Regions from separate parts of the Homo sapiens genome. Here region 2 is linked to region 1. Evidence: fine-mapped expression QTL. A gene starts in region 1. The other region holds a variant in brackets. All regions are shown on one strand. Distances are from middle to middle.

Region 1 (5,382 bases):
TGAGGTCAGGAGTTCGAGACCAGTCTGACCAACACGGTGAAATGCCCTGTCTCTACTAAAAATACAAAAATTAGCTGGGCATGGTGGCATGTGCCTGTGATTCCAGCTACTTGGGAGGCTGAGTTGAGAGGATGGCTTGAACCCAGGAGGCAGAGGTTACAGTGAGCCGAGACTGTGCCACAGCCCTCTAGCCCGGGTGGCAGGGTGAGACTGTCTCAAAAAAATAAATAAACAAATAAACAATCAAATAAAATTATTTACTGTTTTTCAGACAAGTTCTTGAGAGGGAAATTAGGTCCTAGAAAAGAACAAATAACCTAAAAAGATGTTAAAAAGGGAGATATATTGAATTGAATATTGAATATAAAATTTAAAATTTTAAATAGACAAGCAAGCAGTAAGATGAGTCAGTAAACTTATTTCATTGCAAAAAAATGGCCACCTACCAACCAAAAACAGTTCTGCCTTTGAAAGAGTCAACTTTTGATACTCTGGAAGTCAGAATAAAAGGTGTCTCACCTATTATGAAAGGGCAGGCTATAACTGGAAAAGCTACAAAAGAAGAGGCAGTCCCTACCAAGGCTGATATCAATACAAAAAGAATCTTGCCAGATCTGTCCCATACCTTGTCCCAAAAAAACAGGTAAGATTGGCTAAACTCAAATTCTTCAATATTTAACTTTTTCATGAATGGAAGCCTCATAACATTCAGACAAGAAAAGATCCAGCATCGCCCTGAAACAAGAAAGCACATCAAGAAATTATGAGGGTTCACATAGACTGCACTGCTCCAACTGTATTTCCCACCAATGAACTCATGACACGATCTGGACAATTCAGAAAGAGTAAATCAGAAAGAGCAGAAAGATTAAAAACAAAACAAGAAAGGTGGTAATTATTATTAGCAATATATATGCAAAGGTTTAATATCTTTAACACAAAAACACTCTTTACGTATCAAATAAAGAATCCATTTTTCAGAGTAATGCCTTCTCCAAATTGTACTCTACTTCAAAATAAATTAACTGAGAGCGCCATTAGAAAAGTCTTTTAAGGTCTTAAATACAGGGAAATTATCTCTTTTCTGAGGGAAAATTCTGAGGGAAAAACTTTGACTTGTATTGGGTATAACCTTTTTACTAATATGAAAATATGTTTATAATATATTGGTAAGTGAAAAAGATAGGTAGCTTACATAACAATGTATAAGGTATCAATGCATATTAAACACTATTAAACACACACACACACACAAAACTTGACAAATATACAAGAAAAATATTTACTTGGTATTTACAAATATTCTACATTAAACAAAAATAATTTTGTAACAAGAAGAAAACTCTAGTTAACTATAGTGTTTTATGAAAGTCACTAGTGCCTATTAGTTCGTCTTTACCTTACATTTACCTGTATGTCACCTCTCTTCTATATGCTATATATTTCTAGTAGAGGGGATCTGGATGCACTGGTGATGTGAAAACTGCATGAAAATAAACTACACAACTCACATGCTATTTGGATCTTTTGTATGTAAAAGTGACACTGCAAAATGTGTAAGACCTGACCTGTTCCCTAACGGGTCACTGCAATCTAAACTATGTAGGACCACTGTGACATTACTAACTGGATCATCTGTAGCCTGAGAGCCCACACCACTCCAAGCACTTTCTTCTAAAGCAAAACATTAATTATTGTAAGGTCTTGACTTTTTCCTTAACATTTAAAAAATCAACTTTATTCAGGTATAATGTACATACAATAAAATGTACTCACGTTAAATGTGTGCTTTGTGAGTTCTAACCGACTCTAAACAAGCACTGATGTGCTTCCTGTCCGTATAGATAGACTGGGGGGTCGTTTTTAAGTATAGAAAGACTTTAAAAAATCCGTTTAGTACAATTTTGTTGTGAGAATGTGCTCCTTATTTAGATTGCTGGATATCCAATCTTTCACTATACCTGTTTTTTCTGAGAGTGGTGCTAGAAAGCAGATAGCAAAACGAGACTTCTTGACCAGCAAGGCATGAGAACAGAACTTTTTTCTGTATTACAAACTGATCTACTGGTGGGAACTGAGCCCATCAGCACATTAGCTTCAGTTGTAACCAAGAAGCATATTTAAAAGTAACATCTGATGACATTTTAATGTAATTACATTGTATCTTTTCTATTTCATAGTATAGGGCCTTCAGGGCATTTCTGGGGAGTCCTCCAAAGATATGAACATTTTCACATGTTCTGTTTTGTGACCAAGACCATACATCTCCAAGACACGGGCTACAAACCACACAGCATTGGAACATAATATAGTCAATTACACTCAAACGTATACTCATGGACATGTCACTTTTGTACTCTAACCGCATGTACTAACAAGCCACAGAACAGCAAAACAAACCACATGGGTAATGTTCTTAGACCTGCCTGTACCTGTGCCTCATTCTTTACGAATTTACGACCAGTTCTTTCAGTACGAATTTAAGACCACTCTTAAATAAGACACCAAAATGGGACGCTGTCAGGAAGGTCAAGGAACGTATGGGAGAAGTGGAAGCCCACACCTGAGCTCTTCTGGTTGGTGATTGGCTTGCCCTCCTGGGGCACGGCGTGCTGGAACACATGCTGCGCGCGCTGCACCGTGGCCCGCTTCAGACAGATGTCCAGCAGGTCGTGGGTGGTCCCGACATTCTGGGCAAGTACGAACTGGGGGTCGGAATTCAGTTTCTGTATCAGAGCAGCTACCTTCTCCGAATTCAGTCCTGTTGGGAGACCAAACAGGATTTTAACGCAAAAAGAGGGGGAAAGGGCTGATCTGGGGCTCCCGCGTCCCGAATCTAACTTCGTAAGCGCATCCTGGGGTGCCCGCTGCAGCGGGGAAACCCATAAGCGGCATCCTCCTCCAAGGAGCTGTCTCCCTCCAGGCCGATCCAGCCTGCCCCGAAAGCTCCCTCCCCGCCATCGCCAAGGGTCCCAGCCCCCGGCCTTCCCCGCCGCCGGGCCTCACGGGGACCGCGGAGCTCCTCCAGAGGACCGCGGCGGGGGACGGCGGCACCTCACCCGAGCTGCTCATGGCGCCCACGCTGCCCGGCGGGGTAACGGTAGCTTCCAGGGTCCTTGGGCGAGCGCCGGGATTGCGCTGCGGCTCGCTGCCTAGGGGGCCCGACCTGTCTCTCGCACCCGGAGCGCCGGAAAAAGGAAACCGGCTCGGCGGCGGCGGCGGCGGCGGCGGCGGGGAGGCTGAGGCTGGGAGAAACGGGGTCCGCGGAGGGACAAAACTCCCCCCTCGCGTTGCTGAGTCAGCGCCGTCGGGGCTGGCCCCGCCCGGGGGAGGGCCGACGGGGGCGGCCTAGCTGACGCGCTGGGTCCGCCAGCGCCCGGGGGCTGAGGCCGCGCCTGCCCCCGCGCAGGACCGCACAGATGGTCTGCGCGCCAGGGCGGCGCCGGCGCCTTCTCCCCCTAGGTTCCCGCCTCCGGGCCGCGCGGGCGCCCTCCCGGGATCAGGCCCGCTCCAAGGAGGGAGGCTGACGGGTTCCCTGTGGGCCCAGACCCCCAGTACTCTAGCATCGGGGAATCGTCCCCAGGAAGCCTTGTGAGAAGCCAAAAGGGAGCTCGAGGCGGGAGGGAGGAGCTGAGAGGTCCCATAATTAAGCGTCGGGCTTAGGACGGGTCGATATGTCACAAGGAATGCACCCGAAGGCTCTTCCTATAGGCTTCGTTTGCTGACCAATCACTGCATTCTCAATGGCAACTTGTTGCTTGGATTCTCATCAGAAGCAAATAATTGTCTTTGAGGGGGAATGGGAACCAAGCTCTTCCCCACCCACTCCAAAGCTACTACCAGAGTTCTACAAATAGACATCTGCTCATTTCAAGAACACTACCCATCTGGTCTTCACGGAGTCCACGAGTGGCTCCTGTATAGTCCAGCATGTCCCGTTGGGTTTAACTCAGGAGGATGACAGAGGCTAGCCGTATGCATCAATATTGTTTCGCCGAGTTCTCTACAAAACTAACTGATGCTCCCCCTCTAGGCTTTCAAGATAACTCAACAGTTTCCCAAAGTTTTGAGATTGTAAAAACCTTGTTTTTGTTGATTCCGTGTTTCATGCCCTGAAATCTCAGCCCTTAGTAAGATGCTGGGATAGAACCCACAGAGAGTAAAACAAAAACACTGAAACCCTGTATCTGCTATTCAAAACGATGAGGTTGAGTGTGTGTGTGTGTAACCTAGAATCTAGGTCTTCTTAGATTGAAAATCATCGCAGTTCTAAGGAACTCTGATATCTGGAAAAATCCATACTCAGGCACCAATCAGTCATTTGAGAAAGCACGGTTTCTATGTCCCTAGAGAGACTCGGCTAAAAATTGGGGCTATAACATAGCAACTATCTTAAGTGGGCCCATCAACCATCCTATTCTGAGGTTCTTTCAATATCTGAAAAAGAAGAGGCTGAAAATTATACAGAAAGAAATCACTGGTCCTTTCACAAAATGATGTTCAAGCATCCTGCCCAATTCAAGTCATAAATTTTTATTCAGTATCTAACATGTACTAGGCACTGGACAAACTGCTGATGACATAGAGACGAACAAAGCTTAATCTTGCCGTTAAGAAACTCAATGTAGTAGGAAAGAGATGCAAAACAACTTTTAGACTATCTGTAGTAGCATACCAATAGTGCTGTAGACTGTAGAAGCAATGAGGAGAGCACTGTCAATTAGGGCCAAAGGGTGCCTGAAAATAGAAGTGACAAGAGAGCATGATCTTGAAGAGTGGATGAGATTTTTACAAGTCAAAGAACAGGAGAAGGGCATTCAAGGCACCAGCGAAGGCGCAGTGAATAAAATCATGTTCAAGAAAGGGTGCATCATAATCGGATGTGGCTAAGAGCAAGGCATGTTTTGGGAGCAGAGGCAAGGTGTAGGACTGGAAAAGTTTTGTAGGTTTGGGCCAAGATATAAAGGGTTTTATGTTCAATGCCTGAGCATCTGGACTTTATCTTATGGTTAATTAGAAGACAAAATGGGTTTTGAAACAAAGGAAAAATATGCTCAAGTCTGTGTAAAAAAAGAAACCTGGTGGCAGTGGGGAGAGTAATTTGGAGGGGAGGGGCTCTGGAGATAGGGAAACTGGTTAGAAGGTTCTTCCAGTAGTGAACTTGGGAGAGGACAAAAGCCTTACATTGCGGAAAGGGAAGAGGCATTGATAATCTTGAAGTTTTCAGCGGAATAAGAAGATGGAAGGTGGTGTCATTAACCAAGAGAGGGCATACAGAAAAATAGGCATATTTGCATATTTGCAAGTGTGCAGATCTGAACTGAGTTTGGGCCATAGCAAAATTAGGATGCCCCACAGGACACCCAGGAAGAGAAGTTCAGG
Region 2 (5,382 bases), 36 kb after region 1:
CATTTATTGTCACCAGAAATATTCACTGAGCATCTGGTGTGAGTTTTGCACTGTGCTGGGTATTACTTAAAAAGAGCATTACCTTTAACAATCAGGTGAAAGTCCAAGCTCTCCGTTTTCAGAGATGACTTTGCAATACAACTGTAGGTTCCGTTGTCAGGCTTCTCGACTTTGGTGATTGACAGCTGAAAAGACTCACTTGTCTGTTGGATTTGGTGACGGCTTTTCTCTAAATCGAGGAGACTACTGTTTTTGTACCACATCATTTGAGCCTGGGGGTTGGCTTTCACATTGCAAACCAACTTCACATTACTGCCTTCCTCAACTGTTTGGAAGTCGTTTCCACTTAGGAGAGGAGGAACTGCAAGACTCAAGCATTTAGATTTAATTAGCAGATAAGCAATAGTTCACTGTCAGAGTTCAAAGTCTTCCTTCAATCTATCTCATGTGGTCATTTATTCATTTGACAAAAATTTATTAAATACGTACGGTGTGACAAGCACTGGGGTAACAAGGGCAAATAACACTTCCAGTTCCAAATCTCATAGAACTTTTAATGTGATGAAGAAGACAAACCATGAAACAATATATGATTATGAGCATGATATATATAGTAATGATCTATGACAAGCAGACAATTTGTAACACTACCCAAGAGTATAAGCCTTGAGTCTTTCTTCTCTGAGAATTAATAAACCAACCTGTGCTAGTGTTGCACAAAACAGTACAAAATTAAGAAGACATACATTGCAATTAGATCTAATTCCATCTACACCGTTTACTGTGACTTTGAGACAGTTAACTAACTGCTAAGGCCTCTGTTTCTCATGTAAAAAAAAAATGGGATAATCATACATCTCCTGAGATGCTGTAAAGATTAAATAAAATAATCCCTGTAAAGAATTTGCCACAGTGCTAGCCGCTATTATTATTACGGTGGTGGTGGTTTTGAGGGTTACTCTCACCGTCTGTTTTTGCATTTTATCGAACCATTGCCTTGGTAACATATTCACCAATGCATCTTTGCGTTTTCTCAGTGGTGCTCTAGAAATAATGTCCTCCTCCCAGAAGGTGTTCTAAGCATGAGAACTCTGGCATCTGTGGAAGGCAAGTGAGTCCCTCTCATCCCTGTGTGTGAGCAACTCCTTTTTTCCTCTACAATAAGGGCAGTTGTAGACCCATAGACAGTCAACACATCTATCACTGTGCATATTCTGGCAGAAGTGCAGAATAGTAATGAAATGGTTGGAGAGTGGGAACTAGGAAAAAGATAGAGACGGAGAAGGAGGAAAAAGGAGCTTGTATAATCTGCACACTGAATAATTAGACCCTGAGTAGGCTGTGTTATTAATAACTCTCTCAGAAGAATGACATTTTGTTGCTCTTTGGAATGAGCTCGAATTCTGTATCATATCCAACAAGGATGTTATATGGTATTCAGATAGGAAGGAAGCTGCTGGAATAGAGAACATAATTGCCAAATGGAACAATTCCATTTGTGGACAGATTCTGTTAGTGATTTCTTTCTATTTAACTATTTGAAATTAATTTAAGCATATCAGTATATGTGAATATCCCCTCTGTAAAAATTAGTACATTTTAGATAAAGCTAAGATCCAAGCTGGTCACTTCCTGATCCCCAGAGATACCCACTGTTATGAGTTTGGTGTAAATCCTTCCCTATCTTTCTTTTTTCTTAAATAGTTTTCTATACATATAGTGTACCCATAGGAAATATATCATATTATTTTAGGGACATGGGAAGGTTTTACATAAAATACTTCCTTTCTCTCAGTAACTTGCATGTTTTTGAGATATGTTTATATTGAACCACAGAGATCTAGCTTATTGCTTTTAGAATGCTATAGTATAATGTATGCCTTTAATCATTTGTGTTTTGATGGGCTTTAGGTTGTTTTCATTTTAAAATGTTAAACAATGCTACAATAAACATCCTTGTACATATCTCTTTATGATCCTGT[A/G]CATGTATTTCTCCAACGTTAACATCTAGAAGGAGAAATGGTGTGTCGTAAGATATGCACACTTTAAATTTTGATAAGTATTTTGAAAGAGGTGTTCTCAATTTAAACTTTCAGCAACGAGGTATGAGAGGACCTGTTTCTCCACATTCTCCCCCAAACAGTGTATTATCAAGCTTCCATTTAGTTCTTGATTCTGCTATTTATAACAATAATGGTCCTGCCTTTGAAGGGTACATAATATCCTTGTCACATTTTATGAGCTCATTTTGATTTATTGGTTGATGACTTTGTGTCAGTACTGTCATTATGGATTACTGAGCAATTAACTATACACACACACACACACACACACACACACACACACTTAGCAACAATGATATTTAGGAGATTGTTATAAACAGAATTTAAACAGTGGATTGAGGCTAGAAAACTGAAAACAATTTCTTTAAGTCATCAAATCACATTGTTGGCATTTCTGCCATGTCTCCCTTAAGAGGGTTCCATCAGCCTGGGCAACATAGCAAAACCCCGTCTCTACAAAAAATACAAAAATCAGCTCGGCCTGGTGGTGCACGCCTGTAGTCCCAGCTACTTGGAAGGCTGAGGCAGGCAGATCACTTGAGCCTGGGAGGCAGAGGTTATAGTGAGCTGAGATTGTGCCACTGCACTCCAGTGTAGGTGACAGAGTGAGACCCTGTCTCAAAAAAAAAAAAAGTTTCGTGGAATAAGCACTTAAGCACTAGGTTAGAAGCTTGGGAATTAGTGTTTTATTCTCAGCTGCACCTATGATTTGAGCCCCTAGTCCGGGCCTTAGTTTCCTTAGCTGGCTTTTTATTTTATTTTATTTTATTTTATTTTTTTTGAGACAGGGTCTCACTCTGTTGCCCAGGTTGAAATGCAGTGGCGCAATCACAGCTCGCTGAAGCCTCAAACTTCTGGGCTCAGAAGATCCTGTAGCCTCAGCCTCCCGAGCAGCTGGGGCTACAGATGTGTGCCACCATGCCCAGCTAATTAAAAACACACCTTATTTTTTTTTTTGGTAGAAATAGGGTCTCACTATGTTATGTTTGTAGAGATAGGGTCTTTCTACCAAATCATACTGCATCATTATACCTCACCCATTGCCATACCATCCACACCATTCTCATGCAGAACCAGCTTTTCACCCAACAACCCATGTGATCATCTACATTGTATCACTTGACAGTCCCCTAAGCCTATACAGTTCTACCAATGGGTTACCAATACCTGGAACCCAATCATTGAAAAGCTTCACCTTTTTTGATTTTAAGGTGATGTTTAAAGATTCCCTAATGAAAATCTTTTTTTTTTTTTTTTGAGATGGGTCTCACACTGTTGCCCAGGCTGGAGTGCAGTGGTGGCATCTCAGCTCATTGCAACCTCTGCTTCTTGAGTTCAAGCAATTCTCCTGCCTCAGCCTCCTGAGTAGCTGAGATTACAGGTGCCTACCACCGCACCTGGCCAATTTTTGTATTTTTAGTAGAGGCCAGGTTTCACCATTGTTGGTCAGGCTGGTCTCGAACTCCTGATCTTAAGTGATCCATTTGCCTCTGCCTCCCAAAGTGTTGGGATTACACACATGAGCCACTGTGCCAGGCCATGAAAATCTGTCTAAGCAGAACACAAAAGCTAGGAACTACAAAGGAAAAGACTTGAAGCTTTAAATATATAAACATTTAAAATTTCAATATGGCAAAAAAGAACAATAAAAATTTTCAAAAACAAATAGGAGAAATACTTACAATTCAAAATGACAAAGGACTAATTTCCTTAATCTACAAAGCCCTTGTACAGATTAATGAGAAAAAAGCATAAAACCCAACGGAAAAAAATGAGTTAAGGATACAAGCAGGCATTTCATGGAAACAAACAAAAAAAAGACCATTATGTTTACACAAAGGTGAACACCCTCATTCTTAATTTAAAAAATGAAAACAGGCTGGGTGCAGTGGCTCACACCTGTAATCCCAGCAGTTTGAGAGGCTGAGGTAGGCGGTTCACTCGAGGTTAGGAGCTTGAGACCAGCCTGGCCAACATGGTGAACCCCCCGTCTCTACTAAAAATACAAAAATTAAAAATTAGCTGGGCATGGTAGTGGGCACCTGCAGTCCCAGCTACCCAGGAGGCTGAGGCAGGAGAATCGCTTGAACCCGGGAGGTGGAGGTTGCAGTGAGCCGAGATTGCGCCACTGAACTGCACTCCAGCCTGGGCAACAGAGCGAGACTCTGTCTCAAAAAAAAAAAAAAGAAAGAAAGAAAAAAGAAAAAGAAAAAAGAAAAGAAAAGAGAAAAGAAAAAAAAGAAAAGGAAAAGAAAATTTCAAAGGAGGCTGGCAAATTCTCAGAGTTTGGCGATACTCAGTGCTCATGAGGGTGAGGGGAAATAGGTACTCTCATACTTTGTGGTAGGAGCATAAATTGGGCAATTTGGCAATACCAAGACCTAGATTTCAACTACCACTTCATGTGTTACAGACATTACAGACCCACTAGCTGTTTCTTTTCCCCTCACTCACAAGTAACATTCAGCACCACCGAAACGGACACGGACTGATCCCTCCCCAGCCTGCAGGTAAAGCTGATTCCGTTGTCATTTTCACTGATGGAAGAGACACAGACAGAGCTGGAATTGATTTTGTTTCCAGATTTCAAATCCACTCTCCCCTCCTCTCGGTACCAGAGCAGTTCTTCCTCTCTGGTGTGGTTTTGAACAGCACATATCAGAGATGCTTGGGAGCCAGGTGTAGTATCCAGGATATAGTTCTCAGTTTTACCATTCACAGTTAAAACAGAACCTGGGAGTATAGGGAGAAACTATTTAGATATACAGAGTAAACAACCTTAATGCTCATGAACAGGGGATTGGTTAAATAAGTTATGTTACATCAGTAGAACAAAATAAACTCTCAACGATTAAAAATAGTCATATTGATCTATATGATTTTATAATGAAAAATATTCATAATGTATTGTTAACTGAAAAAGAAAAAGATTAAAATGTGGTCATCAAATTTTTGTGCACATTGGAATCACCAGGGGATCTTTTAAAAAGTACTGATGTAGCTGGGTGCTGTGCCTATAATCCCAGGGCTTTGGGAGGTAGAGGCGGGAGGATCGCTTGAGCTCAGGAGTTCAAGATCAGCCTGGGTAACATAGTGAGACTCCGTCTCTACAAAAAATAAAAAAATAAAAAAAAAAACATTAGCCAGGCATGGTGGTGTGCACCCATACTTTTAGCTACTTGGGAGGATAAGGTGGGAGACTCGCTTGAGCCCAGGAGGTGGAGGTTGCAGTGAGCCAAGATCGCACCATTGAACTCCAGTCTGGGTGATAGAGCAAGACCTTGCCCCCAAAAAAAAGTACTGATGCCTGATTCTCATC

Alleles and levels. Positions count from the first base shown, and alleles are read on the strand shown. Sizes are in standard deviations (SD) of each study's normalised expression.
For the expression in Th17 cells of the gene that starts at base 3,197 in region 1, allele A in region 2 goes with a higher level than allele G (large effect, 0.83 SD a copy in Schmiedel 2018).

What was found. PIP is the estimated chance that this variant, and not a neighbour inherited with it, causes the effect.
Region 2: its variant is the best candidate, but not a certain one, in a credible set for the expression of BLMH in Th17 cells (Schmiedel 2018, PIP 0.58).

The regions. Positions count from the first base shown.
Region 1 is chr17:30,288,748-30,294,129 of GRCh38, forward strand. It overlaps BLMH (bleomycin hydrolase), which reads right to left and starts at 3,197. Exons shown (of 12, transcript NM_000386.4): 1 at 3,060-3,197; 2 at 2,564-2,761; 3 at 626-735. The coding sequence starts at 3,072. RefSeq lists an enhancer at 2,418-2,477 and silencers at 2,928-2,997, 3,198-3,607.
Region 2 is chr17:30,324,734-30,330,115 of GRCh38, forward strand. It overlaps TMIGD1 (transmembrane and immunoglobulin domain containing 1), which reads right to left. Exons shown (of 7, transcript NM_206832.3): 3 at 4,518-4,796; 4 at 83-361. Among named protein-coding and RNA genes, the nearest start is that of TMIGD1, 6.6 kb to the right of the region's middle. The variant A/G (reference allele first, on the strand shown) is at 1,983.